Homo sapiens: one gene and its partner. The protein of the gene in region 2 interacts with the protein of the main gene of each other region in a pairwise test. Each region holds a gene or a part of one and is shown on either strand. Other genes may lie near its edges. The genes, in order: SYNJ1 and SORBS1.

Region 1 (3,817 bases), on a different chromosome or scaffold from region 2:
GCTAATGGAAAAGTAGAGGAGAAAGGGCTGATGGTTTGGGGGAAGGGCAAGGCAGAATAGTAGAGCAGTGTCACTGAGAAAATTAGGCTGGGTGGGGCCCATTTGTTCCATCCTCAGATACCCAAGTGACAACCATGTAATGAGACTCCAGCTTGGGGGCAGGCTGTTGAAGTAGGGGTTCCCATCTTAAGACTTCCCTCTTCTCTGTGAAGTGTTGAAGTGATCTGCAGGAGTGGGACAGCTCACAGTTTCAGGAGGGTTAAGGAGTTTTGCAGTAAAGCTCCTGAAGAGCAAAGGGTGAGGGGAAGAGCAAACCAGCAAATCATGGAATTGCCAGGCACTTTAGGCCAGAAGAGACTGAAAAGCATAATTTCAAATGTGACTGCAGTTGTCAGGACTGGGTGGTTTTCTTTAGCAGAGGCAGTCAGCAATCCAAGTGTTATCACAGAAAGATTAAACAGGGGAATCAGTGCAGGGATGGGGTTATGTCAAGCACGTGCAATGGAAGAAGAGTGAAGTAGGGTAATGTTTGAGATGAAGAACCATAGAATCTGAAGGTAGGTACAGAAGAAAGCAGAATCAGATGGAGGTAAAAGTTAGAGGGATCAAACCCTGGCTTCTGAAGAAATCAAAAGAGAAGGAGTAGCCAAGGGAGAGAACTGAAAAGCTGGGAGGCCAAAGTCAGAGTGAAGCTTTTGAGTTTATTATTTCAGAAGAGTGCAGTTCTGAGGGGTGAGGGTTAGGAGTGAAGGCGAATGTCCATAAGGATAGGACCAAGGCATTTTGCTATTGAACGAGTTGTCCACATGGACTTTGATGCCACGCAGAAAGATGGTGCGGGACCTGACTTACAGTCTTGCTCTCTGCTTAGTCCTCAGTGAGTGGGTTCAGGAAATGGAAGAATGGACGTTGGAGATGACTGTAGCAAGTGGGGGTAGAGGATGTTACATAAATTCCTGATGGCATAGCCTCAGAGCAGTAGGACTTTTTGTTCAGGGTTGGAAGACTAATGTTCTGGAATGGCAGTTAGGTTGCAAGGGTTACCTTGTGCCCACTTTCCTACCCAGAAGTAAGTGGAGATGAGGAGACCCTGGGGGAGAACCAGTGTTTACTTAATTAAAGCAAAGCGGGTCTTTGTGGGGTGAGGGTTGCAGGGAGGAGCCTTCTGGGGGAAGACTGTGTGGCTCCTGAGAGCTTGTTGACTCTGAGGCTGGACCTGGGTTAGGCAAGGGAGTGGGGCAGTTCCACAGAGCACAGTGGACAGGTTTGGAAGGAGAGCAGGAAACTTGAGTTGGCTTGCACTGGAGAAGCTGCTCTGGGGCATATTGAAAGCCCATTGGGTCACCCCAGCTCCAAGTGGTTGGTCACCTGACATCTTATTGCTCAGAGACAATAGATACCTTTACATCTTCTGAAACAAGCATTTCTACTAATTGTGGTTTTATACATGCCTTCATGCTTAATCCATGTGTGTTTGCAATGACATAATGTTCATATTTGTTTTGTGTATTTTAACTTTTTAAAACCTAAGGTGAAAAAAATCTCTGAGCAAGTTAAAATGGAGTTATCTCTGATCAAGCCTGCTTTTCCTTAGGTGATGTTGATGACTATAGTGCTGAAGTGGAGGAACTTCTTCCTCAGCATCTCCAGCCATCTTCAAGTTCCGGCCTTGGTACTTCCCCCAGCTCTTCACCCCGAACTAGTCCCTGCCAGTCACCTACAATATCAGAGGGTCCTGTACCTTCCCTTCCCATCAGACCAAGCCGAGCACCGTCAAGAACTCCTGGGCCTCCCAGTGCACAGAGTATGCATTTTATTTGAAAGTTTTGTATGGCTTCCTGTGGCCAATGTGCTTGATGTTGGAGAGTCATCGTTTAAGTTTCATACCTAGGTGATAAAGTGCACCCTGTTTTCTCCGGTACAGAATAGGAAAACTTGTAGATGATAAGCTCTCAATGGAAAGGAAACTTGCTATAACTGTCACTAGATGACAATTGTTCTTAATCTTTTTTCTATGTGGTTAGGTTTGTCTATGTCTTATAACTGATGATTTTCTATGGTATGAACCCGTTAACTATTTGAGCTTTTTCTTCTCTCTACTGGCCAGACTACAAAATGGCTTAACTCAAACAATACTTTGTGCATATCAATAGGGCCACTTAGTAAATTAGCTTTCAGCACCTGAGGCCTAGGTAAGAAGTCAGCACAGAGGTAGCATTATTGCTGCCATGGTACCAAAGGGCAGTTTAATAGTAGACTGCTTTTGTTATTCATACTGAAAATACATGCCCTTTCTTTACACCATTGTGCACATTTTATAGAACATTACACATATATATGAAGGACTGTTCCCTTCTGTCAACAGCTACTTAGAAGCTGATCTTCTTACCTCCTGTGCGCTTTTTAGGTTCTCCTATTGACGCGCAGCCAGCAACGCCGCTGCCGCAGAAAGACCCCGCCCAGCCCTTGGAGCCCAAGCGGCCGCCGCCGCCCCGCCCGGTCGCCCCTCCCACACGCCCGGCTCCCCCACAGAGACCTCCTCCGCCTTCAGGTGACAACCTTTTATTTCCATTTCTGCTAGATGTAAAATTCTTCACTCTATTTTAAAATGTTTTGCATGTTTTCCAATCTCTAGCTTCTGGATTTTACAGTTTTTTCTATCATTATTGCTATTTCTTAGCTTTTCTCTAAAGAACATGGTAGGCGCAACAGACAAGGTAGAGTGTTTGCAGAGTAGATTCCTCTAAGGTGTTTTCACAGCTGCCTTTAGCTGCCTTCTCACCAGCCAGCCAGAGAGGTTTATTTTGTTTTTGCTAATTTGATCTAGTTAGGCATGTAAACTGTTCTTAGGTAAAATTAGGTTTAATTTTTTTCAAAATCCTCATTTCTGGATGATTTATAAGCATAAAATAATTAAAATGTACTAATTTCTGTAAAAGTATAATAAAACTGGAGAGCATACGTATTAATGTACAATTGTATGTATTTGTTTAATGTTCTTTTAAATTAAATATAGTGCTGTTACTTCAATTATAAGCATATGCATTGAATAATAGTTTTTGTAGTACGTAGATAATATGTAATTCCTGCATGATACTTGATGTCATGGATACTATAGCAATCTTTGACATTTCACTTCTGTATTTAATGTCATTTCCTTTCTGCTGCCTATTTTCTTATGAACTATAAGGGGCTAGGAGTCCTGCACCCACTAGAAAGGAATTTGGAGGTAACCATTTACATTTGTTAGCATGTGTGAATCGTGGTTCATTAATGTTTTACACCTGAAAGACATTTTAGATTTGTTTGATAAAAGTCAAAATGAATGACATTCTAGTTTAAAACTAATCCACAAATAAAACTAATAAAGGCTTTCATTTCCCAGGTAGGCTGGGATTGTTCATCAGGCCTAATTTTTTTTTTAATAAATGTGGTCGATTCATTTACAAAGATTTAATACCCAAAAGTTATATTAATTTTAAAAGTCATTCAGGTACAGTAAATACAGAACATTTCCCAAGTATCTGATTAGTGATACATTTATTTTCTAGTGGAAAAGCTTTTGGATTAGCAAAGAACTGTATGATTTTCTTTTCCTTTCTTCATAAGGAAATTTTTATTCACAAAGGGTCACTTTTTGTTTGAAGTATAGTTTATTTGGTTTACATGAAAACTCACAGAGCTCAGTTGGAGTTATACATTTGACAAGTTTATTTAATCTAAATCTCAAGAAAAGATGAGATGAGTTTTCACAATTCCTCAGAAGAACTTTTACAAATCCAGTGTTACTAAGGCTCACTGTGCATGTGTAGCCTGG
Region 2 (3,817 bases):
AGAGATACAGCCAAGGGAGGGACACAGCTGAGGGAGGTAGAGAGATGGGAGAGAGGGATGGCAGGTGGGGGCAACTTTCAAAAGACCCAGGGATTGAGTGAAAGTCTGCATATCAAACAGACTAATACCTAGCCCCTTTCCCCATGGAGGCTCCCAGAATGCAGGAAGGCCAGGCTGTTTACCACCCCACCCCACCCTACCCCACACCCAGGTAAAATCCTCTCCAAGAAAGCCCTATCCAGGAAAGCCCCAGGAAAAAGATCTACCGGCGCTGATATCTAGGCTGCTCCAGTAGAGAAAAAGGGGGCTCTCTGCTGGGTCACTCTACAATGAAGTTAACGACTCCCTTCCTTGTGGCACTGATGCCCAATCAGCATTTCGGTGTCCATTCTTAAAATATACATAGACAGTCAAGGATCAGCATGCATGGAAGGATAGCTGCAATGGAAGATACAGTAACCAAAACAAATGGAAAAAGGGACTTGGAAGAAACAACATCTTCCAAGGGACAGCAGGGAACAGCAGAAAACCATAAAAAAAACAAAAACAAACAAACAAAACCCTTAATATAAAGGAATTTACTGTACCCATGAAACAAGAATAGAATGTCATCTAAAAAAGAAAAGCAAGTATTCAGAGAACTAGGGAGCTCTTACAAAGTAAAACATGCAAATATGTTCCACGTAAACACATGAAAGCACAGTTAAAAATGGAAAAGAGTTGAAGATAAAGCTGAAGATAGCTCTCTGAAAGACAAAAATATAATAAAATGAAAAAAGGAAATAAAATGTTTTAAAATTATAAACTTGCTCCAGGAAGTCCAACATTCAGCTAATAGGCATGCCAAAGACAAAACACAGAAAATGGAGAAAATGAAATTATTAAAATATATCTAATTAAGAAAATTTCCCCAAACTGAAAGACGTCAATCTTCAGATCAAAAAGGCACACACCGGCTGGACGCAGTGGCTCACACCCGTAATCCCAGCATTTTGGGAGCCCGTGGCGGGTGGATCACCTGAGGTCTGGAATTTGAGACCAGCCTGGCCAACGTGGTGAAACCCCCATCTCTACTAACAATGCAAAAATTAGCTGGGCGTGGTGGCATGCGCCTGTAATCCCAGATACTTGGGAGGCTAAGGCACGAGAATCGCTTGAACCCGGGAGGCGGAGGTTGCAGTGAGCCGAGATTGCACCACTGCACTCCAGCCTGGGCAACAGAGTGAGACTCCATCTCAAAAAAAAAAAAAAAAAAGGCCCACACCAAAGACCCAGGCCAATCATTTTTAAAGCAAGGAGATTTCAAATACAGGAAAAGAGAGAAGATCCCAAAAACTTTCAGTGAGAAATCAGGTTATCCATAAATGATCAAGAATCAGAATGGTATCCGAATTTTGATACCAATATTAGAACCTAGATGACAGTGGAATGATGGCTTCAAAATTCTAAGGGAAATGGCTTTCGACTTCAAATTCTAGATGAATCAAATCACCAATCGAATATGAATGTAGAATATGAACATTTTCAGACCTGTAAGCTTAAAGTGATCAACTTCCACAGACCCTCTCTCAGAAACTTGTGGAAGAATAAATCAACAAAGGAAACAGGATCCCACCCAGGATAAGGTGAGGGAATTCCCAGGATGAGTCATGCCACAGGCCTAGAGGTCAATGGGCAAGAACAAAGGAGACAGAATGGAGGCCTATAGGAGGGAAGTCTCCAAGCGGGCGTAAAAAAAAAAAAACAGTAATAAAATAAAAAGGAACAAGCGCAGGCACGGTGGCTCATGCCTGTAATCCTAGCACTTTGAGAAGTTGAGGAGGGAGGATTGTTTGAGGGCAGGAGTTAGAGACCAGCCTAGGCAATGTAGTGAAACCCCATCTCTACCAAAAAACTTTAAAAATTAGCTGGACATGGTGGTGCCTGTAGTCCTAGCTACTCAGGAGGCTGAGGCAGGAGGATCACTTGAGCCCAGGAGGTCAAGGCTGCAATGAGCTACAATCGCACCTCTGCACTCTAGCCTGGTGGACAGAGCAAGGCCCTATCTCAATAAATAAATAAATAAATAGGAACACATGTTATAAAACAAATGTCTTAAGATGCTGTCAAATACTTTGAGAATTAGCAATAAGTACATAGAAACTAAGTAAATAGAAAATGTAAGATAATTATTAACTCAAAAAATGTACAAGAAAGAAAATATTATAGTATACTATATGGCTCTGTCATGAACACTATTTACACAGCCAAAATAATGTAAGCACCAAATATCAATGTAATCAAAAACTGTGATATATCTATAATGAGAGGATAGGGAGAAAGGGAAGTATTGGGGGGCAGAGGAGAGGATCTAATCCATAGTAAGACATCAAGACATAACATCTAAAAGTAACCTCTAAGCTGGGCATGGTGACTCACACCTGTAATCCCAGAACTTTAGGAGGCCCAGGTAGGAGGAGTGCTTCAGGCCAGGAGTTAAAGTCCACCCTGGCCTCAAGCAGGGTCTCAACATAGCAAGACCCTGTCTCTACAAAAAGAAAAATAAGGAAAAATAAAAATAACATCTAAAATGGACAATCAGAAAACAGCATTGTAAGCAGGTAACAATAAATATGATAGTAATATCAGGAGAAACAGCTCAGTGCATTAGAAGTAACTGTTGTAAACAGAGTAACAGCAGCCCCTCAAGGATGTCTATATCCTAACTGCCATGCCTGGCTAATTCTTTGTATTTTTTGCAGAGATAAGGTTTTACTATGTTGGCCAGGCTGATCTTGAACTCCTGGCCTTAAGTGATCCGCCGGCCTCAGCCTCCCAAACTGCTACGATTACAGGAATGAGCCACTGCGCCCAGGCAGCCTTTATATTTTTCTAGTAGTATTGACTTTTTTTTTTTTTTTTTTTTGAGAGGGAGTCTGGCTCTGTTGCCCAGGCTGGAGTGCAGTGGCACAATCTCAGCTCGCTGCAACTTCCGCCTCCCTGGTTCAAGTGATTCTCCTGCCTCAGCCTCCAGATTAACTGGGATTACAGGCGCCCGCCACCGTGACTGGCTAATTTTTGTATTTTTTTAGTAGAGATGGGATTTTGCCATGTTGGCCAGGCTGGTCTCAAACTCCTGACCTCAGGTGATCCGCCCACCTCAGCCTCCCAAAGTGCTGGGATTACAGGCGTGAGCCACCACACCCAGCCTATTTGTCTTTCAAAACTCTGTGCGGGGTGGGGGTGCACAGTGGCTCAGGCCTGTAATCCCAGCACTTAGGGAGGCCAAGACAGGCAGATCACTTGAGGTCAGGAGTTCGAGACCAGCCTGGCCAACACTGTGAAACCCTGTCTCTACTAATAATAAAAAAATTAGCTGGGGGGGTGGTGGTCTCCTGTAGTCCCAGATACTAGGGAGGCTGAGGCAGGAGAATCGCTTGAACCCGGGAGGTAGAGGTTGCAGTGAGCTGAGATCATGCCACTGCACTCCAGCCTAAGCAACAGAGGGAGACTCTGTCTCAAAACAAACAAAAAAGAAACTCTCTGTGTACACACACACACACACACACACACACGCGAAAGTTTTATACAAATTAAAATTTAATTTAAAAAGAGAAGAAACACAGACTCACTCTATTCCCAGAACTCACAATATGGGGGAGGAAACAGACAAGGGAACCAGCAATATCAACAGAAGTAGAAAGCTGAACACAAGAAGAAAGGCATCTCTTTTTTTGTTTGTTTTTTTTTTTTTTGAGATGGAGTTTCGCTCTTGTTACCCAGGCTGGAGTGCAATGGCGTGATCTCGGCTCACTGCAACCTCTACCTTCCGGGTTCA

The links.
Region 1: the proteins of SORBS1 (region 2) and SYNJ1 interact in a two-hybrid assay, tested with the Homo sapiens proteins (one large-scale study listed by BioGRID and IntAct).

Annotation. Positions count from the first base shown.
Region 1 is NC_000021.9:32,644,380-32,648,196, reverse strand, and holds part of SYNJ1 (synaptojanin-1), read left to right. Parts: intron 1-1,594; coding exon 1,595-1,804; intron 1,805-2,407; coding exon 2,408-2,551; intron 2,552-3,190; coding exon 3,191-3,229; intron 3,230-3,817. UniProt on the Homo sapiens protein: Phosphatase that acts on various phosphoinositides, including phosphatidylinositol 4-phosphate, phosphatidylinositol (4,5)-bisphosphate and phosphatidylinositol (3,4,5)-trisphosphate. Has a role in clathrin-mediated endocytosis.
Region 2 is NC_000010.11:95,551,165-95,554,981, forward strand, and holds part of SORBS1 (sorbin and SH3 domain-containing protein 1), read right to left. Parts: intron 1-3,817. UniProt on the Homo sapiens protein: Plays a role in tyrosine phosphorylation of CBL by linking CBL to the insulin receptor. Required for insulin-stimulated glucose transport. Involved in formation of actin stress fibers and focal adhesions.